Homo sapiens: one gene and its partners. The protein of the gene in region 1 interacts with the protein of each later gene in a pairwise test. Each region holds a gene or a part of one and is shown on either strand. Other genes may lie near its edges. The genes, in order: NUFIP1, ZNHIT6 and NOP58.

The links.
Region 2: the proteins of NUFIP1 (region 1) and ZNHIT6 interact in binary tests that used the Homo sapiens proteins (3 or more experiments, as listed by UniProt).
Region 3: the proteins of NUFIP1 (region 1) and NOP58 interact in binary tests that used the Homo sapiens proteins (3 or more experiments, as listed by UniProt).

Annotation. Positions count from the first base shown.
Region 1 is NC_000013.11:44,978,700-44,986,879, forward strand, and holds part of NUFIP1 (FMR1-interacting protein NUFIP1), read right to left. Parts: intron 3,456-8,180; coding exon 3,373-3,455; intron 2,122-3,372; coding exon 2,023-2,121; intron 1,254-2,022; coding exon 1,191-1,253; intron 568-1,190; coding exon 491-567; intron 1-490. UniProt on the Homo sapiens protein: Binds RNA.
Region 2 is NC_000001.11:85,704,730-85,713,629, forward strand, and holds the start of ZNHIT6 (box C/D snoRNA protein 1), read right to left. Parts: upstream 3,705-8,900; 5' UTR 3,556-3,704; coding exon 2,900-3,555; intron 1,779-2,899; coding exon 1,713-1,778; intron 1,627-1,712; coding exon 1,520-1,626; intron 1,435-1,519; coding exon 1,349-1,434; intron 1-1,348. UniProt on the Homo sapiens protein: Required for box C/D snoRNAs accumulation involved in snoRNA processing, snoRNA transport to the nucleolus and ribosome biogenesis.
Region 3 is NC_000002.12:202,261,271-202,269,432, reverse strand, and holds the start of NOP58 (nucleolar protein 58), read right to left. Parts: upstream 3,671-8,162; 5' UTR 3,492-3,670; coding exon 3,447-3,491; intron 1-3,446. UniProt on the Homo sapiens protein: Required for the biogenesis of box C/D snoRNAs such as U3, U8 and U14 snoRNAs. Part of the small subunit (SSU) processome, first precursor of the small eukaryotic ribosomal subunit.

The DNA of each region.
Region 1 (8,180 bases):
TATTTAGCGGTAAGCCTGGGATGAAAACAAGAAGAACTATCCTTAAAGATCAAGAAAGATACTTCAAACTCCTTTGAGCAGCAGGTTACATTTGTACTTAGCTCACCTTAGTTTAAGGTTTCAGTTTAAATCCACTGACATGGGTAGTCATGTGCCAGATGTACTGTTCTGTGATAATACACTTCTGTATAATACACTTTTTGGTAAGAGTACCCACCCATTATTGCCTCAACCACTGAACATCTGACAGGTGACATGCAGTAGCCCCCCTCAAAGAGCAACATACAGTCCCATTATGACACATTTGCTACTTAAATGAAGAGTTCTTATTAGGTCTTCCTAAAACTACGTTCAATAATAGTCTTACATAATATGCCTTATGGTCCTCTTCCCTAGTTCCAACATTCTAAGGGAATTCAATGAATTTAACTACATTAATAAGCCTTGTCACAGTAAAACAGTTATTTCACCAGTTCTGAACTCTACTCACTTCCTTCTTTCTTCCCTCCACCGTGCAATTTCCTCTGGAGTGTCTAACTTGATCTTCTTCATGCCAGGAGCATGCATCTAGGGGGAAAAAGCCTGCTGAACATCAGGAGGCAATATCATATGCTTTTGACTAACTTGGAGACTTTGTTTCTACAAGTAAACTTATGTTGGACACAATTTTAAAACCAAGTAAGCAGGTTGTATCTATTTGTGTTATAACTTTTCCTTTAAAGGAAGAAGAATCTATCATGTATTTAATTAGTGCTATTAATAGAGGGAAAAGGGGTAACATAATTTTGATTACAAAGTAGATATGCCACCCATTCTCTCAAATGACATTAAACACCCAAATGAATGACTTACCAATCAAAACCTAGAGAGGCCACTAAAGATATGAGTAGACGTGACAATCTGTAGCAGCATGGTGTAGTAAAGCAGTATACAATTTGGAGTCAAGAAACTGAGGTCCAAGAATCAATTCTCAGGCCTTGGGCAATTCATTTTTTAAAATATTTTAAATGGGGCCAATATAAACAACCATAGTTGTTTGTGAGGAAAAAGTTGAATAAATGATGTCAAAATCCTTACAAAGTACTCCATTAGTGTTACCTATTATTAGGTATATAAATAAACAGTTGTGAAGATAACAGATCAATAAAAAGAGCATGTATTTAAAAATAGGATAAAAAAACAGAACTTACATTTCTCCAATGGAACTGGACAATCTTCTCGTGTGCAGTAAAAGAGCAATCTAATTCAGGGCACTATGAGTTTTTAAAAGAAAAAAAAAACTATTTAACAAATGTTTTCCATGTTAAATTTACCCCACTATACATACACAGACATATTCTGGCTGTATTACATAGTTATCCCATCTGTATAGTATTATCTCTGCATACAAAAATGACTCCAAAACAGGGCTGCCTTTAGGCAAAGGAATGACACTCTCAGAGTATGTGGCACAATAATATATCTTATTTACTTCTCCATTTGAGCAAAGGCATACATCAATAAACCTGTGAAATGCTCTTAATTCCTAAAGTTGAGGGGCATTCCCAAAAACAGAAAAAGAACCTTTCAAAACCAAAGGCTTCCTTTTAAACCTTTTAAACATTTTGGTTAAAGTTTTCTAGCTAGTACCTGACAAGGTGTGGACCAGCCTTTGAGGGTGATAGGCACAGCCACATTACACAGTATGGTTTAATGGTCAAGGGCAGACTTAAAGGGGAAAGAACTCATTAAGATGCACAAGGTAACTAGAGGAGAGGACAGCCTCTTCCCAAGCAGTAGAGGTACACACATACAAAAAGCTGTCAGAGCTCCCTTCTTTGCTACCATCTTACCTCGTCCCTGAAGCAGCGGGATCCCCACTTTCAAACCCCAGGGTCACTGCCCCTATCTGTCAAGTTGTCAAACTATATCTCTACAGAAACTATAAACTTTAAAGGAAAACAAGCTTGGCATTTCTACCAAATATACAGATAGAAGAAGCACAATTGCTACATCAGTTTCAGGACAACTAAGAAAACCTACTTTTGTATGTTCAGACATGTGTTTGTCATACTTTTCTTGATTTTTAAAACCACGATCACAGGTATCACAAAAAAAGTGAAAAACTGGTTCCTTTCTTTTCTGCAAACAAAAACAGAGAGGAATTAGGCTTTTGGTGAAAAATCTGTAATCAATAATAAAAACATAACTATCATTCTAGTAATACACACTTTGATGTTTCCAATAACCCTTTCGTGTGGGAGAAGCTTGTGAGTATATTTCCAATGAAGAGATTATTCTATTTCTTTCTTTCATTTTGTTTTTAACAAATATATTAGTGAAACCCAGGCATAATTTTAAACTTTTTTAATCCAAATAGTGCTAATATAAATTATGAGCAGATTGCAAATTGGTTATCTAATTAAGACTCAGTACAGAATATGTTGAAATGATCTGAAAATAAATAGAATAAAAACAGCAGCTCATCTTTTAGAAAAAAATAACTACAGCTGACCCTTGAACAACACAGGTTTGAACTGCAAGGGTCCACTTATAAAAGGATTTTTTTCAGTAAATATATTGGAAAATTTTTTTGGAGATTTGTGACAATTTGGAAAAACTCACAGATAAACCACATAGCCTTAGAAATATCAAAAAAAAAAGTATGTCAAGAAGGTATAAAATATATGTGGACACCATTTCATTTCTATACTAACCGACTATTTATGTTATTGGTAAGACTTCCAGTCAATAGTAGACCATTAGTAGTTAAGTTTTAGAGGAGTCAAAAGTTACACACAAACTTCTGACTGCACCTCTAACTGTTGCGTTGTTCAAGTATCAACTATATGGCCAGGCATGGTGGCTCACGCCTTAATCCCAGCACTTTGGGAGGCGGAGGTGGGCGGGTCACTTGAGGTCAGGAGTTCGAGACCAGCCTGGCCAACACAGTAAAACCCCAACTCTACTAAAACTACAAAAATTAGCCAGGTGTGGTGGTGCGCACCTGCAGTCCCAGCTACTCTGGGAGGCTGAGGCAGGAGAATTGCTTGAACCCAGGAGGCGGAGGTTGCAGTGAGCCAAGATCGTACCACTGCACTCCAGCCTGGGCGACAGAGTGAAACTCCATCTAAAAAAAAATAAGGTAAAATAAAAGTATCAAATATATATCTATTTCTAAAACCACAGAAAAGAAACAAAAATTTAGTTATGTATTATTTTTGAATCCCAATTTGCTATATTCATGTTTAACCATAAAATTCCTTTTTATAGCAAGGCTCCACTGTGTCAATAATGGAAGCAAAACACTGAAGACAGTTATGACAGAAATGCAAGATATGAAACAGTAACATAGGGACCAAGGGGTCAAATTCAAGAACATCTTTCAAATACCTTTTTTTTCTGTTTTCTACTGGGAGGTAAGCTGAAGTCTGTGAATTTTGCATCATACTTTCGTGGATAATAAGAATTTTTAACTAAAAAAAAAAAGATCCATAAATGTTTGCAACAATGTAATTATTTAAATTATAATTAAATTTTATCTACTACAGCATGTTACAAATATTTCAGTAAAAACACTAGTAAACTACCCTTCTAGGAAGAATACTAGTTCAAACAAAATAACAAAGATTAAGATTAGTCTACCAAATGACTATTTTTCAAACAAAGAAAGACTGGTGTGATTATATGTCCACAGAAACTTTAGGCGTCAAAGTGCAGAAATGGACAACCTAACCTGATGAAATTCCTTCGGTTATTTCAAATATTAGAAATGTAACCAGTAAAATCCCCAACACTGCTCCTTCAGCATCAATTTCGCACCAGGAAAACAGAACCTTGTGAAATATATCTCCTCTCAAATCCCACTGTACTTTTCCATTCTTATTACCATGCCCCAAGTCAGAAATTCTGATCTTCCACCAGATTACTCCTATATTGTCTTCCAGTTCATAAGCCCCCTCTTCCAACAAACCTTACATACTGACACCAAAAAAAAAAAAAAATTCTCCAATCCTGTCACAACCTGGCTCAAAAATTTGCATATGGACCAGGCGTGGTGGCTCATGCCTATAATCCTAGCACTTTGGGAGGCTGAGACAGGAGAACTACTCAAGGCCAGGAGTTCATGACCAGCCTGGGTAACCTCACATGACCCCATCTCTACAAAAAAATTTAAAAATTAGCTTGGCATGATGGCATGCACCTGTAGTCCTAGCTACTGTGGAGGCTGAGGTGGGAGGATCACTTGAGTTCAGGAGTTTGAGGCTGCAGTAAGCTATGATCATGCCACTACACTCCAGTCTAGGCAACAGCACAAGACCCTGTCTCTGTCTCTTTTAAAAAAATTATTCTTTGTATAGAGATGGGGTCTCACTATGTTGCCCAGGCTGATCTCACACTCCTGGGCTCAACCGATCTGCCTGCCTCAGCCTCCAAAGTCCTGGGACTGCAAGCGTGAGCCACCATGCCCAGCTGACCCTGTCTCTTATTTTATTTTATTTTTTTTGGCGGGGGAGATGCAGTTTCGCTCTTGTTGGCCAGCCTAGAGTGCAGTGGCACAATCTTGGCTCACTGCAACCTCTGCTTCCCAGGTTCAAGCGATTCTCCTGCCTCAGCCTCCCGAGTAGCTGGGATTACAGGCATGTGCCACCATGCTCAGGTAATTTTCGTATTTTTTAGTAGAGACAGAGTTTCACCATGTTGGCCAGGCTGGTCTCGAACTCCTGACCTCAAGTGATCCACCTGCCTCGGCCTCCCAAAGTGCTGGGATTACAGGCGTGAGCCACCGCACCCAGCCCCCCGTCTCAAATAAAAAAAAAAAAAAAGTTGAGGGAGGGGCTGGCATGATGGCTCACATCTATAATTCCAACACTTTGGGAGGCCAAGGCGGGCAGACCACTTGAGCCCAAGAGTTTGAGATCAGCCTGAGCAGCCTGGCGAAACTCTGTCTCTACAAAAAATACAAAAATTAGCCAAGCTTGGTGGTATGTGCCTGTAGTCCCAGCTACTTGTGAGGCTGAGATGGGAGAATCACTTGAGCCCAGCAGGTTGAGGCTGCAGTGAGCCATATATGTGCCACTGCACTCCAGCCTGGGCCACAGAACAAGACCCTGTCTCAAAAAGCAACAATAATAAAGGATGAGTTTGACCTTCTCTCACTCTCTCTCACCATGTGATGCCTTTCTTGATGTCACCATGCAGCAAGAAGGTCCTCAACAGCCCCTTGATCTTGGACATAACCTCAAGAACTATGAGCCAAATAAATTTCTGTTCATTATATATTACCCAACAGGTCATACTCTGTTATGGCAGCACAATAGGGACTAAGACAGCTTCCTAGAGACCTTCCATGAGATTCTAATTTATTTTCTTACCCTACCCTTCCCCATACCTTTCACATACTCTGCTTCAGTCACACCAGAACCCTGCAATCTCCAGAACTTGCCTTGTACTGACACCTCTTTCTCTACCTAGGAAACATCTCTTCCCAAATTCTATACATCTCCTAAGACACTTCTTCCAAAAGCTTTTCCCAATTTCCTCTACATTCTGAAATCAGCTATTATATGCCTCTATCATCAGTCACACTGTATTTTGATTCATACTTATAACATATCTCATCTGACTCAGCCAAGTCCGTATTTCCAGCATCTGCCATACAATAAACACTAACTGTTTGGGCCAGGTGTGATGGCTCATTCCTGTATTCCCAGTGCTTTGGGAGGCCAAGGCAAGCAGATCACTTGAGGTCAGGAGCTCGAGACCAGCCTGGCCAACATGGTGAAACCCAGTCTCTACCAAAAATACAAAAAATTAGCCAGGTGTGGTAGTGCGTGCCTGTAGTCCCAGCTACTCAGGAGGCTGAGGCAGAAGGATCCCTTGAACCCAGGAGGTGGAGGCTGCAGTGAGCCGAGATGGTGCCACTGTACTCTAGCCTGGGTGACAGCAAGAGACTCTATTTAAAAAAATAAATAAAATAAAATAAAAATAAAACACTAATTGTTCAGATTCAGTTTAATGCAGAATTGAATTTTTTTTTATTATTATACTTTAAGTTTTAGGGTACGTGTGCACAATGTGCAGGTTAGTTACATATGTATACATGTGCCATACTGGTGTGCTGCACCCATTAACTCGTCATTTAGCATTAGGTATATCTCCTAATGCTATACCTCCCCGTTCCCCCCACCCCACAACAGTCCCCAGAGTGTGATGTTCTCCTTCCTGTGTCCATGTGTTCTCATTGTTCAATTCCCATCTATGAGAGAGAACATGTGGTGTTTGGTTTTCTGTCCTTGCAATAGTTTACTGAGAATGATGACTTCCAATTTCATCCATGTCCCTACAAAGGATATGAACTCATCATTTTTTATGGAATGCAGAATTGAATTTTCTGCAAAGTTGGAGAATGGTTTTAAATTAACACTCTTGTAGCTTGAAATATGATCTATATGGTGTCAACACCCAAATTTATAGCTCCAGCCACAAATCTCCCCTGAAAGTAGACTAATAGCTAAAAGCCTATTCAATATCTCTACCTGACACAAATATATTCCAACTTTAATTCCTGGACTTCCTTCCAAATCTGCTCCATCCACATTCTTACCTATCTCAGTTAATAGCAACTCCATCCTTCCAATTGTTTGGCAAAAAAACTTTAAATTATCCTTCTCTCCTCTTTATCTTGCATCCCATATATCCTATCTTTCAGTAAATCATGCAGTCCCCACCTTTAAGGTATAAAAGCACATCTCATTTCACTGCACTTCGTTTTACACAGCTTTTTGCAAGCTAAGGGTCTGCGGCAACCCTACATCAAGCAGGTCTATCAGCACCATTTTTCCAACAACAATGTGCTGTCTTTGTGTCACATTTTGGTGATTCTCGAAATATTTCAAACTTTTTCATTTTTATTACGTCTGTTATACTGATCTGTGATCAGTGATCTTTGATGCTACTACTGTAATTGTTTTGAGACACCATGAATCGTGGCCATATAAGATGGTGAACTTTATAAATGCTGTGTATGTTCTAACTGCTCTACCAACCGGTGGTTCTCCTCTCCCTCTCCTCAGGCCTCCCTATCCTCTGAGACGCAATATTCAAAAGTAGGCCAATTAATAACCCTATCATGGTCTCTAAGTGTTCAAGCAAAAGGAAGAGTCACATGTCTCTCATTTTAAATCGAAAGCCAGAAATGATTAAGCTTAGTGAGGAAGACACGTTGAAAGCTGATACAAGCCAAAAGCCAGGCCTCTTGTGCCAAACGGCTAGCCAAGTTGTGAATGCAACTACTGAGAAAGGGTCTCACTGTCAGCCAGGCTGGAATATAAAGGTGCAGTCATAGCTCATTGCAGCCTCAAACTCCTGGGCTCAAGGGATCCTCCTGCTCTGCCCTCCTGAAGTGCTGGGATTACAGTCGTGAGCCACCGTGTCTGGATGAAAAGTTCTTGAAAGAAATCCACAGTGATTCATAGATAGTGATTCCTCTAATGGATCTGAGCAAAGTAGATTAAAAACCTTCTAGAAAGGAGGTTTTGATTCACTATTCAAGATACCATTAAGAACATTCATGATTTATGGAAGGAGGTCAAAAGATCAACATTAACAGGAGTTTGAAAGAAGAAATTCCAACCCTCATAGACGATTTTGAGGAATTCAAGACTTCAGTGGAGGAAGTCACCTCAGATGTAGTAGAAACTGCAAGAGAACTACAATTAGAAGTGGAGGGGCCAGGCGCAGTGGCTCACGCCTATAATCCCAACACTTTGGGAGGCTGAGGTGGGTGGATCACGAGGTCAGGCGATCGAGACCATCCTGGCTAACATGGTGAAACCCCATCTCTACTAAAAATACAAAAAAATCAGCCGGGCGTGGTGGTGGGCGCCTGTAGTCCCAGCTACTAGGGAGGCTGAGGCAGGAGAACGGCGTGAACCTGGGAGGCAGAGCTTGCAATGAGCCAAGATCGAGCCACTGCACTCCAGCCTGGGCAACAGAGCAAGACTCCATCTCAAAAAAAAAAAAAAAAAAAGAAGTGGAGCCACAAGATGTGACTTGCTGCAATCTCATGGTAAACCTTTAATGGATGAGAAGTGGCTTCTTATGGATGAGGAAAGAAAGTGCTTTTTTGAGAAGGAATCTACTCCTGGTGAAGATGCTGTGAACACTGTTGAAATGACAACAAAGGATTTATAATATTA
Region 2 (8,900 bases), on another chromosome or scaffold:
ATTATGTCTGTACCAATAATACCAATAAAATAAGGTGTTTAAAAGGTATTAAAATTCTGCAACTCCAATACTAAAATGAACACAATTCCAGGATACGATTTAATCACACCATAAACAAATTTCTACAACACCAGTTGCCAAATATTCCAAATATGTAAGCTTTAATTTTGCATAGTATTTAAGGAATTAAAAAAGGAATGCAAGAGTATGAAAATTAAGTGTATTAGAATAGCAAGTCTTGTTAGCTCTTCCTTCAAAATCGCAATCTAATCCCTTCCCAATAATTCAAACAGTACACCCAAGCCACTATTATCTCACAAGGATCATGGGAAGAGCTGCATAATTGGTCTCCCTGCTTCCAATCTTCCATTCTTGCCCCGCTAAAGTTCACAAAGTGCAAGAGTGGTTTTTCAAAAGGCAAATTTATGTTCAAAACCCTTCCATGGTTTCCATTTGCACTTAGAATTAGAAACCCTCACCAGTTTCTTTTCTTTTTTCTTTTGAGACAGAGTCTCACTCTGTTGCCCAGGCTGGAGTGTAGTGGCGCAATCATGGCTCACTGCAGCCTTGACCTTCCTGGGCTCTGGTGATCCTCCCACCTCAGCTTCTCAAGTTGCTGGGAGTACAGGGGCACGCCACCACGCCTGGCTAATTTTTGTATTGTTTTATAGAGACGGGTTTTCACCATGTTGCCCAGGCTGGTCTTGAACTCCTGAGCTCAAGGAATGCTCTGGCCTCAGCCTCCCAAAGTGTTTGGATTACAGGCATGAGCCACTGCACCCAACTCCTCACCAGTTTCTCTAACTTCATTTTCAATACTCTCCTCCTCACTCACTATGCTTCAGTTACCTTGCAAATCTTTTAATTCCTCAAACCAGACATCCTTGTTTCTGACTCAGGTCTTTCCTTTTACTTTTGTCCCTACCTGGGATAATCTGCCTCCAAATGTTCACATGACAGCCTCTTTCTCAGCACTCAGATCACTGCTTACACATCATCTCTTTGAGAAGCTTCTCCTGACCACTGTATCGAAAATAGTACCCTGACAATCTCTCCCCAACAAAGACCATTTTCATTCTCTCTTTAATCTCTTGAGCCTTCTTTATTTTCTATATGAACTTAACTCTATCTGAAATTACATTTGTTCCTCTACTTATCTCCTATATCTCCCACTAAATACAACTCCACGAGGGGACGGACTTTGTTTGGGTCACAGCCATATCCTTAAGTAATCAGAATAGCTCTACATCATGGTAGCCACTTAATATATTTGGTAAGTTAAAAAAAAAAAAAGAATCTAATTGATTTGAAGGACTTCTAACTGGAAGAAATTAGGAAAAAATCTTACATATTTATTGCTTATTGGTCTCTTCAAAAAAGCATCTCTAGAAATATGGTCCGCTGTTCTTGCCACATCTTCCAAAAATCGATAATCTAAAAATTTCAAAACAGAAGAATAAACAAGTGACATATACCAATGGCCAGGAAGCCTCAATTTGCTATGCATAAAGTGGCTTACCACTTAGGAGATTCATTTCAGTAAACTGTTGTATTGAAATGTATGCAGTTTTATCTCGAACTCCATTACATGTCAGTTCTGCTTTGTGTTTCTTTACACAGGGCAAACTGAAAAGACAAAGGGGAAGTACTTTTATATTTTAGGGTAAGAAAGGTACAGATACAGGTTAAAAGGTAGGAAGTTACATGTATACCTGCAGGAATATCGCATACAACGTGGACATCTGTACTTTGCTTCTTCTGTACCACAAGTCTCACACCTACAAAAGCCCACATGTAACATTAAATTATCAAATATTAATTGTATTTATTTATAAACTTAGAATTCCCAATCAATTTATAAACTCAGTGACAAGTAACTGATAAAATATTTGATAGCTGTTGAACATCATTTGAAAATTCTTCTCTATGAAACCTTCCCAAAACAACTACATTTCCAATGTTGTTAGTGATATGTAACTCAGGAAAATGTATTAAAATTTTTAAAACCCATCTCGCTTTTGACTTCTTTTTCTACTATAATCAGGGAATGAGATTATTCACTGATATTTTAACTTGTGATTCCTGGAAATGTGGTAATGATTGTATGTGTGTGTATCCAGAAGTCCAATTCATGAGCTATGTTTAGATATTTTTAAAGCACACACCAGACAAAGAATATAAGGCCAAGTGAAATTTAGAGAGTAGTAGTAGCACCCTTTTTCCTGAACTCCACGCCTAATCTAGAATGAGCATCGAAATAATCTAGAAATGCCATGTAACCCATCATCTGTCCTCAACTGCTCTTCTATGCTCCTGGGATACTGACAACCAAACTACAGTTACTTCTATTTAGCCCACTGTGTTCTAGACGGGAATATTCTCAAGAATCTGACTACTCTTATTTCCTTTGTCACATGATCCACACACTAAGGAAATTCAATCAAAAGCAATAAATATTCACAGCACCCATGAAGAAGCTTGATAATTGAGGTCAAGTGTATTTTTGCCTAGTTTTAACTTAATCTACTTTGTCATTGTTAGTTTTATTAGACTTTCTCATCTCTATTCTCTCTCAAAGGAATACCGAGTAAAGAGCATATTAAGTCAAGCCAGATCCAGTTCCAACTGATCTTTTGGTCCCCAGAATTTCCACTTTCCTAACTTGACCATTACCCATTGGACACTACTAATTTCATGTATTTTCACTGAATTTGTTGTGTTGTCATGTACAACACCCTCCACTTCCCAACCCACCCCCGCGAACGCCGTCTGACTCCAGAAACCCAAACTTGTGCTCATTTTTCATTATTCCACCTTCTCCTGATAGTGTGGTTTCCTTCACTCTAGACATGAGGACTCCACAGCTTTATTCCCCTAAATGGAATCCCCCATGCCCTACCTTGACATGGCCAGTTTCCGCTTGCAGCCCACCGGGTGATTTATCGGAGGCTCTTCTTTCACCTTTGTATCATCCACGATTTCTTTCTTCAGGAAATCCTTCTCTTCTTTTACACACTCTCCATGCATCAATTCCTCTTTTATGCATTGACCAACAAACTTCTCCTCCTGTTTTATCTCCAAGTTATCCTTCTCTTCCTTCACTTCTGACCAGTCCATTACCTCTTCCTTTACCTTCTCTTCCTTTACCTCTGGTTCACCCACCTTCGCTTCTTTTACCACTAAACTACTATCCGTCTCCTGCTTCACCTCCAATACGCCTGCGTTCTCATCCTTCACCTCAGGCCTATCCTCCACCTCCTGTTCTACCCACTGGCCAGCCAACCTGCCTTCTGTACCTGGCCAGTCTATAATTTCCTGCTTCACTACCGTTAGGTCCATCGGTATTTCCTCTGGCCTTTGTCCACTTCCTTCCTCTCCATCCCCTATCTCCTTTATCCCTGTCAGCCCTGTCCCCTCCTCTCCGCCGCCGAACTCCTCCGCCCCTGCTAAGTCCCTTACTCCCTCCCTGCCAGGCTCTGGACTTAGCCGCACCCCCTCAGCTACGCTGTGGAGACCTCCCCCAGACTTCCCTTCATTTTCAGCAGCAAACTCCATCAACTCACGATCCTTGGCCTCTGCTGCCACTCTATCCTTCAATGTGGCTGCTGCACACCAATAGGAGGAATTACCGGTCGGAATACCTACGGCGGCCCACGTGTGGAGCCAAGCAGCCACAAACCCGGAATAGCCTGCTTGACGCGACTGCTCGAATCGCCGTAAAGCTACGCTTTTGCGCCTCGCCCCTTCACGACTTGTAGAGCTCTTTACGGCTCTGCGGAGGCCCTGCCGGATTCTCTGGGCGAACAAGCGTAACTGCGTGACTTGCCCGCTGGGGTTCTCGTCTCCTTCCTGGTTTCCACCACCCTCTTCCCTTAGAGAAGCCTCCTGGGCCACTCCCTGGGCCACCCTCCACGCCCTGCTGGGTGTAAAGAGTGTAGGAGACCGGCAGAGGGAGAGAAGCGAAACCCTTACACTCTGGAAGTGGGAAAACCCACCCTAATCTGTGTTAACCATTAAATCCAATCTTGCATGAAAATGGAGGACACACCTGATGTTATTAGGCCTTTCCAAGCTTTAGTTTCTTAAAGCTATAAACTAGGGACCATGGTATTATTAATATAAATCTCCCAGTGTCATTGCAAAGATTATATGAGATCATGCATGGAAATCAACTAGCAGTGACGGACACAAACTCGATATATAACTGGGAATCCTGATGGGCTTCAAACCGCCTGGTTTCCACCACCCCCTTCCCTTAGGGAAGCCTCCTGGGCCACACCCTAGGCCACCCTCCACGCCCTACTGGGTGTAAACAGTGGAGGAGACCGGCAGAGGGAGAGAAGCGAAACCCTTACACTCTGGAAATGGGAAAACCCACCCTTATCTGTGTTAACCATTAAATCCAATCTTGTATGAAAAAGGACACACCTGATGTTACACCTTTGCAAGCTTTAGTTTCTTGAAGCTATAAACTAGGGAGCATGGTATTATTAATATAAATCTCCCAGTGTCATTGCGAAGATAATATGAGATCATGCATAGGAATCAACTGTCAGTGACAGACACAAACTCAGTGTATAACTGGGAATCATGATGGGTTTCAAGTAGGAAAGAGGGCATTAATTTTTCTTTCCATTCTTTCTAAGTAACAGCCTGCGTCAGGCTATTCCCCATTCCCAGCATTCTGCAGGATTCTCTCAGAGAACATCATAAATATATTAGGCGAAAGTGCCTAATGCCCGGTATTGCTGAATAACATTGCATTGTATGAATGTGGCACGTTTTTTCATGCATGTACCAGTTGGTGGGCATTTGGCTTGTTTCCAGTTTGGGCTATTACGAATAATTCTGCTTCCACATTCATATGCAAGTCTTTGTGTGGACATGTTTACATTTCCCGTTAAGTAAATAACTAGGAGTGGAATTGCTGGGCCATATAAATTTATGTTAATTTTTAAAGAAATGCCCAAACTGTTTTCCAAAGTAGCTATACCATTTTACATTCCTACTGGCTGAGGGTTCCTATTTCTCTACATCCCGGCCAATTCTTAGTATTATCAGTTATTTGATTATAGATGTGTAGGGGTACGTCATTGAGAATTTACATTTCTTTAATGACTAATGATGTTGAACATCTTTTCATCTGCCAACTGGCCATTTGGATATTTTCTTTAATGAAATGTTTATTCAGATCTTTTGCCCATTTTTAATTGACGTCTTTTATTATCAAATTGTAGTAGTTCTTCATATATTATGGATATAGGTTTGTGGTAGACAAGCACCAGTATGTTCCCCAGTGATTCTCCACCCCCACAGTGTTCAGACCAATGTGTAGACTGCTCCTGCATCATCCCAGGATTGGTCTGTGTCACTGATAGCATACAGCAGAAGTAATACGTTACCTCTAAGATTAGGTTTGGAGAAAGGCTGTGGTTTCTGCCTTAGGCTCTTGCTTTTTTGGTCTCCTTCCTAGATCATTCACTCTGGGGGAAGCAAGCTGCCAGGTTGTGAGTACCAAGAGGCCCATGTGGTAGTGGGCCGAAGTTACTGGCTCTTACAGGCTGAATTGTGTCCCCTCAAATTCGTGTGTTAAATCCGTAACACCCAGTACCTTAGACTGTGAGTATATTTGGAGATAGGACCTTTAAAGGTGATTTCGTTAAAATGAGACCATTAAGGTCGGCCCTAATCCAATCTGACTGATATCTTTATAAGAAGAGGAAATTTGGACACAAAAAGAGACACGAGGGATGCCTGCAGAGAGAAAAGACTATACGATGATACAGTGAGGTGGCCACCTGCATGCCAGCGAGAGAGGCCTCAGAAAAAAACAAGACTGGTGACAACTTATTTTGGAGTTCTAGCGTCTAGAACTGTGAGAAAATAAATTTAAGTCACTCAGTCTATGCTAGTTCATTATAGTGGCCTTGGCAAACGAATGCACTGGCCAACAATCAGCAAGGAATTTCAGCCTGTCAATAGCATATGAATGTGTTTGGAGGAAGATTCTCTAGTCTTAGTCCAGCTTTACATGACTGCGGCTCTGGCCAACAACTGAACCCAGATTCCGGACACTCAGAAATTGTGGGAGGGGATAAATGTTTCTTGTTTTAAACTGCCAAATTTCTGGATAATTGATACAAAGCAATGCATAATTAATACCAATTCCTTGTATGGTTCGCAAATATTTTCTCCCAGTTTGTGGCTTTTCCTTTTCTTAGTTGTATCTTTAAAAGAGCAAAAATTTTACACTTCAATTAAATCCAGTTTATCAATTTTTATTTTTATTTTTTGTGATGGAGTCTCGCTCTTGTCACCCAGGCTGGAGTGCAATGGCGGGATCTCTGCTCACTGCAACCTCCGCCTTCTGGGTTCAAGTGATTCTCCTGCCTCAGCCTCCCGAGTAGCTGGGACTACAGGCAGGTGCCACCACACCTGACTAATTATTTTTGTATTTTTATTAGAGATGGAGTTTCACCATGTTGGCCAGGCTGGTCTCGAACTCCTGACCTCAGGTAATCCACCCACCTCCCAAAGTGCTGGGATTACAGGAGTGAGCCACTGCACCCAGCCTCTCAATTTTTAAATGAATGGTGCTTTTTGTGTCACACTAATAACTTTTTGCCTAGCCCAAGGTTGCAAAGAGATATTTCTCCTATATTTTCTAGAAGTTTTATAGTTTTAGCTTTTACATTTAGGTCTGTGATCCATTTTGAGTTGGCTTTTGTATCTAGAGTCATCCCTCTGTTTCTGTGGGGATTGGTTCCAGGACCACCACAGATCTGAGAACGCTCAAGTCCTACAATCTGCCATCTGCATCCATGGTTCCACATCTGTAGGTTCCACCAGCTGTGGAAATTTGATCCATGGTTGGTGGAACCCACATGTGGCAGAACTAAGGATATCATCCATAAGGTGGACAAGGTAATGGTTTAAGTTTCTTTTTTTTAATATGGATATCTTATTGTCCAAGCACCAGTTGTTGAAGCCTATTCTTTTTCCTTGAATTGCCTTGATATTTAAAAAAATCAATTGACCACAAAGATAAAGATTTATTTCTGGACCTTATATTCTGTTTTACTGATCTATATGTCTATCCTTACACAAATACCATACTCTATTATAACTTTATAGTAAGTCCAACTTTCTTTTCTTTTGAAAATTGTGTTGGCTATTCTTGGTTGTTTGCATCTCTGTGTATTTAGTGCCAGCTTGTCAATTTCTACAAAAGAACTTGTGGGATTTTCATAGGGATTGTGTGGAATATATAGATAAGTGAGGGGAGGATTGTCATCTTAACAACATTGTGTCTTATCCATGAAAACGGAATGCCATCCATTTATTTATATTGTCTTTAACTTCACTTAACAATGCTTTGTAGTTTTCAGTGTACAAGTTTTTACATATCTTTTGCTAAATTTATTCCTAAGCATTTTATTCTTGATGTGGTTTTTGTTTTTTTTTAAATTGACACAGGGTCTCCCTCTGTCACCCAGGCTGGAGTACAGTGGCAAAATCATGGCTCACTGCAGCCTCGACCTCCTGAGTTGAAGCTATTCTCCCACCTCAACCTCCCAAGTAGCTGGGACCACAGGCGCATGCCACCATGCCCAGCTAAATTTTTTTTGGTATTTTTTGTAGAGATGGGGTTTTGCCATGTTGCCCAGGATGGTCTCAAACTCCTGGGCTCAAGGGATCCGCCCACCTCAGCTTCTCAAAGTGCTGAAATTACAGGCGTGAGCCACCACACCTGGCCTTGATGTGATTTTGAATGAAATTACTCATTTAATTTCATTTTGGATTTTTCATTGCTAGGTTGCAGAAATACAATTGATTTTTGTATTTTGATTTCATATCCTGCAACCTTAATAAACTCAAATGTTTTATAATATCTCTATATAATTGTATTCAATTAACTTACATTTTGTTTAGGAGTTTTCGTCTATGAAGGATGTTTATTTATCTGTAGTTCTTTTTTCTTGTAATGTTAGGTTTTGTTATCAGAGTTTTCTGCATACCTTTTAACTTTTATGTTTCCCATCTCTTTATTGCTTCCAGATACTTTCTGGGAGAGTTCCCCAAGTAATTTCTACCTTACTATTTTGGTATTTGATGGTATGCAATCTGTTAGTCAACCTATCCACTAAGCTCATTTCAGTCACTATGTTTTTCATAACCATTGTCTGTAGCTTATTTTGCTTCATATTTCTAATATCCCTTTTTATCTCTCTGAAGGTAGTCCTTTAACTCGTTTTATTTATTTATTTTTTTGAGATGGAGTCTCGCTCTGGTTGTCCAGTCTGGAGGGCAATGGTGCTATCTTGGCTCACTGCAACCTCCGCCTCCCAGGTTCAAGTGATTCTCCTGCCTCAGCCTCCCCAGTAGCTGGGATTACAGGTGCCCACCACCATACCCAGATAATTTTTGTATTTTTAGTAGAGACAGGGTTTTGCCATATTAGCCAGGCTGGTGTTGAACTCCTGACCTCAGGTGATCCACCCACCTTGGCCTCCCAAAGTGCTGGGATTACAGGCGTGAGCCACCATGCCCGACTTTTGACTCTTTTAAAAATCTTCAGTTTTTTGTCCATTAATTCTGTCCCTCCAGTATAAATTATCCAGCTTAAAAAAATCTTTTAGAATTACAGTCCAGATTTTATAATATTTTCTCTGGTGAGCTCCTATTCCTTTGAGAGTATTAGCAAGCATAGTTGTAATTCATATTTGAAAGGTAGGATCAAAAGCATAGGATTTGGATTGCAACTCTTCTGGTTATTCTTTTCAGTGTGGAGGGTAAGCAGAAGAGTGGATGAGCATCATGGTAGAAAGCCTCTGGTGTTACAATCTGGGCTGCACTAGCCCCAGTCTGCCCTCCTATGAAGAGCATACGCCTCTCAGGTT
Region 3 (8,162 bases), on another chromosome or scaffold:
CATGGCTGTAATCCCAGCACCTTGAGGCCAGGAGTTTGAGACCAGCCTAGGCAACATAGTGAGACTCTGCCTCTTAAAAAAAAAAAAAAAAATTTAGGCCAGGCATGGTGGCTCACGCCTGTAATCCCAGCTACTTGGGAGGCTGAGGCAGGAAAATCGTTTGAACCCAGGAGGCGGAGGTTGCAGTGAGCCGAGATCACACCACTGCACTCCAGCCTGGGCAACAGAGTGAGACTCCATCTCAAAAAATAAATAAATACAAATACAAATAAATAAATAATTAGCCAGGCATGGTGGCTTGAGCCTGTAGTCCCAGCTACTCGGGAGGAGGTGGGAGGATCACTTGACCCAGGAGGCCAAGGCTGCAATGAGCCATGATCCTGCCACTGCACCCCAGCCTGGGTGACAGAGCAAGACCCTGCCTCAAAATAAATTTTAAATACATAAACATGAATTTGTATGTGTACATGGGTTATACATAAAATGTTTTCCTCACTGTAAATGGAAGTTTAAAAAAAACTTCAAGGCCAGGTGCAGTGGCTCACGCCTGTAATCCCAGCACTTTGGGAGGCTGAGGCGGGCAGATCACCTGAGGTCAGGAGTTCGAGACCAGCCTCAACATGGAGAAACCCTGTCACTACTAAACATACAAAATTAGCTGGGCGTGGTGGTGCATGCTGGTAATCCCAGCTACTCGGGAGGCTGAGGCAGGAGAATTGCTTGATCCTGGGAGGCAGAGGTTGTGGTGAGCCAAGATCGCGCCATTGCACTCCAGCCTGGGCAACAAGAGTGAAACTCCGTCTCAAAAAAAACAAAAAAACAAAAAACTTCAAAAAACTTCCTAAAGCATTCTCATCAAAGCATGAATTATATGCATCCAATATAATTTTTTTTTTTGAGACGGAGTTGTGCTCTTATTGCCCAGGCTGGAGTGCAATGGCACGATCTCAGCTCACCACAACCTCCGCCTCCCGGGTTCAAGCAATGCTCCCGCCTCAGCCTCCCAAGTAGCTGAGATTACAGGCGCACACCACCACGCCCAGCTAATTTTTCTATTTTTTTAGTAGAGACGGGGTTTCACCATGTTGGTTAGGCTGGTCTCAAACTCCTGACCTTGTGATCCGCCGGCCTCGGCCTCCCAAAGTGCTGGGATTACAGGCATGAGCCACCATGCCTGGCAACCAACATAATTTTATACCCTAGCATTTTGAAAGATTATGGGAAAGGAAACTAATAACTTTGAACCGTATGTCTACTTTTTTAGGAGATAAAATTCACCATATATCATATTAATTTTACATGTATCTTAATATTTGCCCTTTTAAAGTGTACAATTCACTTTTTAGTAGTGCATTTTCACAAAAATGTGCAGCCATCACTAGTTCCAGAACGTTTGTATGTCTTTTATACTCAGAAACGATCAATGTTAATTCCAATAATTACAAACTAATCAATGTCAACATATTCGAGCTTAACTAGTTATTTCTTTAGTACTAGGTTACATAAACCACAATTTAATCATTTTGAACAGTAACTTGCAGATAAATAGCACTGCAAACTCCAACGGAATACTCAAAGACATTTTCATGGAGGAGGACACTTTTCATTAATAGAAATCAGTAATTCATCGAGACACGGTTGAGTATTTTAGGACCCAGGTCTAGAAATCCGACCATTGATAAGCCAATTCCTTCCTACCATGGGAGACAACCAGTGCACTGTGCAGAGTTGCTCCTCTTCACATCCGGTACAGGACAGTATACTACGGCAATTAACGGTGAAATTCATCGATAGACACTTACAGACCACATTGGCTAAGAGAATTTGAAGCTATGCAGAACTCTACATGGTAATTTAGATAAGATTCCAAAAAGCTGGAGAAAAGTAAAATTGACATGTTTCGTAGCTCTAAAGGGGACTAAGGAGCTTACTTACAAGTTCCTTAAAACACTAATACGGCAATTGCAGATAACTCCAACTAAGGTAAAAACAAGCAAAACTGCCTTTTCGGTTTTAATGATTTTATTGGTTTTCTTAAAAATAACATTTGACGTATCAAATGCAAACTGCGTATTTTCAAATGTCAGAAGTGAAACATGGAGAACTCTGCACCCATCCAGACTTTCTTGCATCCACACCACAAATGGTTTTTTGGTTCATAGCTAAAATTGTATTACATTTATTTTTACCTAGCGTTTTTGCTTTCTACCAACATATATATATGTAGAATATACATAAAAACTTTATTTTTCATTGCTATATTCACAGACCTCAGAAGAGTTGCACCGCACAAGAAAAGGCACTCAATCTCACTCATTCTTCCTAACATCTCAACAGCATCTTGCGATACGAATGTCTTACCATTCAACCATTTCAGTGCTGACGAACTTGTCAAACTTTCCCCACGAAAACAACCAAACCTCAAACTGACATCACCAGCCCAGATGTTTTCCCCTAAGCTTCAAATCTGAAATACTGAACTGCCCGATCTACACAACTGCATTATCAGGTCTAATAGACAACGCAAGCTTCGCACAGCCCAAACCGGAAATCTTTAGTCCTTCCCCAAGAAACTTTCTTAACATCTTATTTAAACCAAAACCCCACATTCAATCTATTAGCCAGTCCTTCCTGTTCTACCTTCACAATTTCTATCGATATTTGTTTCTCTCCATACCAGGCAATTTCATCTTGTCCAAATGAATGCAAAAGTATTCTTGCTGCCGTTCTTATCTCCTCGAGTCTAATCTCCACACAGCAGAGTAACCGTATTAAGACAAATTAGCAGGTCATTCCTCTGCTTAAATCCTTTCGATTGGCCGAGCACGGTGGCTCACGCCTGTAATCCCAGCACTTTGGGAGGCCGAGGCAGGTGGATCGCTTGAGGTCAGGAGTTCAAGACCAGCCTGGCCAACATGGTGAAACCCCGTCTCTACTAAAAGCAAACAAACAAACAAAAACAACTAGCCAGGCGTGGTGGTGGATGGAGGCCTGTAATCCCAGCTACTCGGGAGGCCAAGGCAGGAGAATCGCTTGAACCCGGGAGACGGAGGTTGCAGTGAGCCAAGATTGCGCCACTGCACTCCAGCATGGGCAACAAGAGCGAAACTCCATCTCAAAAAAAAAAAAAATCTTTCGATCATTCCTCAAAACATCTAGAATAAAGTCCGAATTCCCTATAATCTGTTAAATTCTAACACGCCTCCTGCCCACCCCTTCAACGGGAGGAAATAAAATCCTCTAATGCAGAACGGGTCTCCCCAAACGGCGGGGCCACGTGTTACACGTAACATGGCTCTCAGGTGTAAAGGCCTTCTCCCTCCTCCCAGAGCCCGGGCTATAACAGGCACCCACGCTACTCTGAGTAGTTCCGTGCTTAAGTCTTTCCCTCTCCTCGTCTGTCCAGCATCCGCCTTCCCCCTTTAACGGCTCGCTCTCCCACCTACCTTAAAGATGGCGTAACCCACAGACGTTTCAAACAGCACCAACATGGTGAGGCCGGGTCAGGGCGCCGCACGGCCTGCCAGAAGCTGTAGAGTCAGTTCAAAAACACCGACTACGCGGCCTCAAAAGGCCTCCTAGGCCGCGGCGGGCAAAGCACAAATGCGCTCGCCGTCCCGCAAAGAATCAGAACACGCTGCCTAAACCCTCCACGCTGTACTGGAACTAGGACGCACGAACGCGCTACTCCTTCTCTGAGGATTCTGGGATAGCAACGTCACTTCCGACAGAAGACTGCCGCAGAGATTGCCGTCACTTCCAGAATGTTCCCGCCACAGCGGGCTGGGGCGGGCCGAGAAAGTTTGTATCGCGGGATCTAGGGCCTGAACGGAGCCTTTGCGCCTTTTTTTCTTTTTTCTTTTTTTCTTTTTTGGAGACGGAGTCTCGCTCTGTAACCCAGGCTGGAGTGCAGTGGTGTGATCTCGGCTTACTGCAACCTCCGCCTCCCGGGTTCAAGAAATTCTCCTAGCCGGGCGCAGTGGCTCACGCCTGTAATCCCAGCACTTTGGGAGGCCGAGGCGGGCGGATCACAAGGTCAGGAGATCGATCGAGACCATCCTGGCTAACACGGTGAAACTCCGTCTCTACTAAAAATACAAAAAATTAGCCGGGTGTGGTTGCAGGCGCCTGTAGTCCCAGCTACTCGGGAGGCTGAGGCAGGAGAATGGCCTGAACCCAGGGGGCGGAGCTTGCAGTGAACCAAGATCCTGCCACTGCACTCCAGCCTGGGCGACAGAGCGAGACTCCGTCTCAAAAAAAAAAAAAAAAAAAGAAATTCTCCTGCCTCAGCCTCCCCAGTAGCTGGGACTAGAGGCACACACCACCACGCCCAGCTAATTTTTGTATTTTTAGTAGAGATGGGGTTTCAGCATGTTGGCCAGGATAGTCTCGATCTCTTGACCTCGTGATACGCCCGCCTCGGCCTCCCAAAGTGCTGGGATTACAGGCGTGACCCACTAGGCCCGGCCTTTTTTTTTTTTTTTTTTTTTTTTTTTTTTTTTTTTGAGACAGTCTGGCTGTTGCCCAAGCTGGAGTGCAGTGGCACTATCACGGCTCACTGCAACCTCCAACTCCCAGGCTCAAGCGATCCTCCCACTTCACCCTCCGGAGCAGCTGGGACTACAGGCCTGTGCCACCACACCCAGCTAATTTTTTGTAGAGACAGGGTTTCACGATGTTGCCCAGGCTGGTCTCGGACTCTTGACCTCAAGGGATCCTCCCACCTCGGCCTCCCAAAGTGCTGGGATTACAGGCGTGAGCCACCGCGCCCCGCCACCGCTAGAGATTTAAAGGGGAAAAACTTCACGATATTATTTTGTTAACCCTCTATGAATTATATGTTCACTTTGAGAGAAACGAGGAGCTGTTTCGGTGCCAGTCTGCCTCAGGCATCTAGAATTTGAAATGCCAGCTAGTGCCATTAGACTTTATCCCCTTTCAAGCCCTGCCTTGAGGCGAAGGCCTCAGAATGACACCATTACTGTCACTATATTTGTGAGCATTCCTGGCCGTTCCCTTCTGTCTGGCCAAATGAATTATTAGCACAGTTTTCTTTCAATAAGCCTCTCCTATTTTTGCTGCATTTGTTAAAATGACCCCAGGGTATGAATTTAGAATGTCTTTTTTTTTTTCTTTTTCTTCTTTGTTTTTTTTGAGACGGAGTTTCACTCTTGTTGCCTAGGCTGGAGTGCAGTGGTATGATCTCTGCTTACTGCAACCTCTGCCTCCCGGGTTCAAGCAATTCTCCTGCCTCAGCCTCCCGAGTAGCTGGGATTACAGGCATGTACCACCACGCCTGGCTAATTTTGTATTTTTAGTAGAGATGGGGTTCCTCCATGATGGTCAGGCTTGTCTCGAACTCCTGACCTCAGGTGATCCACCCACCTCGGCTTCCCAAAGTGCTGGGATTACAGGCATGAGCCACTGTGCGGGGCTGAATTTAGACTGTCTTCTTGATTTAGTGTTACTTGCTTTTCTGGAAGCCTTTCAGTCTCAGGGACTGGGATTAAATACCCCAGTTGTTTCACAAGTCTGTCTTCCAACAGGGGTAAAATTTCCTTACTCACTTCCCAGGCCCTATATGCAGATTGTTCCTAATCATTAAATTGCAACCTGCTGGGAGAATTGCTTGAACCCAGGAGGCGGAGGGTGCAGTGAGCCGAGGTGGCACTACTGCACTCCAGCCTAGGCGACACAGCGAGACTCCATCTAAAAAAAAAAATTGCAACCTGCTCAAGATTGTGGAACATTAAATAGGTAGCAACTCTGCAACCTGAGATTAAGAGGAAAGAAAATCCTGGGTTGAATAACAGAAAGTCACAGGACAGAGGAATCTAGGGTGAATTCTTTTTTTTTTTTTTTTTTTGAAACGGAGTCTCAGTCTGTCGCCAGGGCTGGAGCGCAGTGTCGCGATCTCAGTCACGATCTCAGCTCACTGAAGCCTCTGCCTCTTGGGCTCAAGTGATTCTCCTGCCTCAGCCTCCCCAGTAGCTGGGATTACAGACACACGCCACCATGCCCAACTAGTTTTTGTATTTTTAGTAGAGACGGGGTTTCCCCATGTTGGCCAGGCTGGTCTTGAACTCCTGACCTCAGGTGATCCGCCTGCCTCAGCCCCCCGAAGTGCTGGGATTACAGGCATGAGCTACCACGCCCGGCCTAGGGTGAATTCAAGAGCATAATTGGCCGAGTGTATGGTTCACGCCTGCTATGATCTCACCATTACACTCCAGCCTGGGCTACTAAGCAAGACCCTGTCTCAAAAAAGAAAAAAAGCATGGTTGATTATAGTTACAGCTGTAATCCAGTGTGGTCAGGGAGACAAGAGAGACGAAAATTACCTGATTGGGAGAGGGGTATGCGTGGGTGGGTGAGATGTTAGAAACACCATGTCTGTTTATAGTGTTATTTAACTGCACAGTATTTTTCTGTCTAGTCTCCTTAGCAGAAGTGACATCTGCTAGAGAATTGAGTCTACTTTACACATATTTGTGTCTGTATAGGATGTTATGTTGTGCTACTCATGAAATAGAATCTAATTAATTCTTAAAAATTTAATGAATGAATGTCTGCAGGAAGTAAAAATTCTTTTCTTTACGTGTAAAGCCTTAAATCCTATTCCCAAAATGAAATGAAACCACTTATTCAATGAGAAATCTCTTTGCCATGGTATGTCCTAGAATTTGTCCTTGCACGTTACCATTTACATAGTCACCTCCATATGATGCTTTAATCAGGAGTTCAGAGCTGACTCTGATTTTGGGTTTGTAACTTGACCAAATAAAGTAATTGGAGATTTTCTTTCTTTCTTTTTTTTTTTTTTGAGATGCAGTCTTGCTCTGCTGCCCAGGCTGGAGTGTAGTGGCATGATCTTGGCTCACTGCAACCTCTGTCTCTTGGGTTCAAGCAATTTTCTGCCTCTGCCTCCTGGGTAGCTGGGATTATAGGCCCCTGCCACCACACCCTGCTAATTTTTGTATTTTTAGTAGAGATGGGGTTTCACCATGTTGGCCAGGCTGGTCTTGAACTCCTGACCTCATGATCCACCCACCTCGGCCTCCCAAAGTGCTGGGATTACAGGCATGAGCCACTGCTCCCGGCCAGTAATTGGAGATTTTCTCTTGCAAGGGAGAAGTAAGAGTCTTAGTACTTTGTTAAAGTACTGAGTGAAGGGGAGATAGCACAAAGAAATATAAGAAGGAGAATATAGGAGAGTACAGATGATAGAAGGGCTTACAATTTTTTTTTTTTTTTGAGACAGAGTTTCGCTCTTGTTGCCCAGGCTGGAGTGCAATGGCATGATCTCAGCTCACCGCAACCCCTGCTTCCCGGGTTCAAGCGATTCTTCTGCCTTAGCCTTCCGAGTAGCTGGGATTACAGGTATGTGCCACCACGCCCAGCTAATTTTGTATTTTTAGTAGAGACAGGGTTTCTCCATGTTGGTCAGGCTGGTCTCGAACTCCTGGCCTCAGATGATCTGCCCACCTTGGCCTCCCACAGTGCTGGGATTACAGGTGTGAACAACTGCGCCCGGCCAGGGCTTACAATTTTACTGGTGGCTAACATGGTGAAATAACAAGGATGAGAAACATGGTTCGTCTGTCCTCTCTGTACACCCCAACTCCACCCCTGTTCCAACTAGAATATAAACTCTATAAAAGTTAGTTGCAAAATCTGCAAGTACTAGGCTAGTATCTGGCACGTAGTAGAGATTCCATAAACATGACTAGTAACTAAGTAAATGAATGGATGAATGGAATGAGTGAATGGTGGGATAATTTCAAGGTGCTAGTAGAGCCTCCAGGGACTTTTTGGAACCTAATGAGATTAGCCAAAGACACCATTTTGGTCAGACACCTTCCATGTGCCTGGTAACAAGAAGGGGATGTTCTGGGTGGTGAATATCTTTTATGTATTCAACAAATATTTGAGTGTCTACTCTGTGCCAGGCATTCTTTTTTTTTTTTTTTTTTTGAGATGGAGTCTCACTCTGTTGCCCAGGCTGGAGTGCAATGGTAGGATTTCAGCACTCACTGCAACCTCCACCTCCCGGGTTCAGGAATTCTCCTGCCTTAGCCTCCTGAGTAGCTGGGACTATACAGGTGCGCACTTCCACACCCGGCTAATTTTTGCATTTTTAGTAGAGACGGGGTTTCACCATG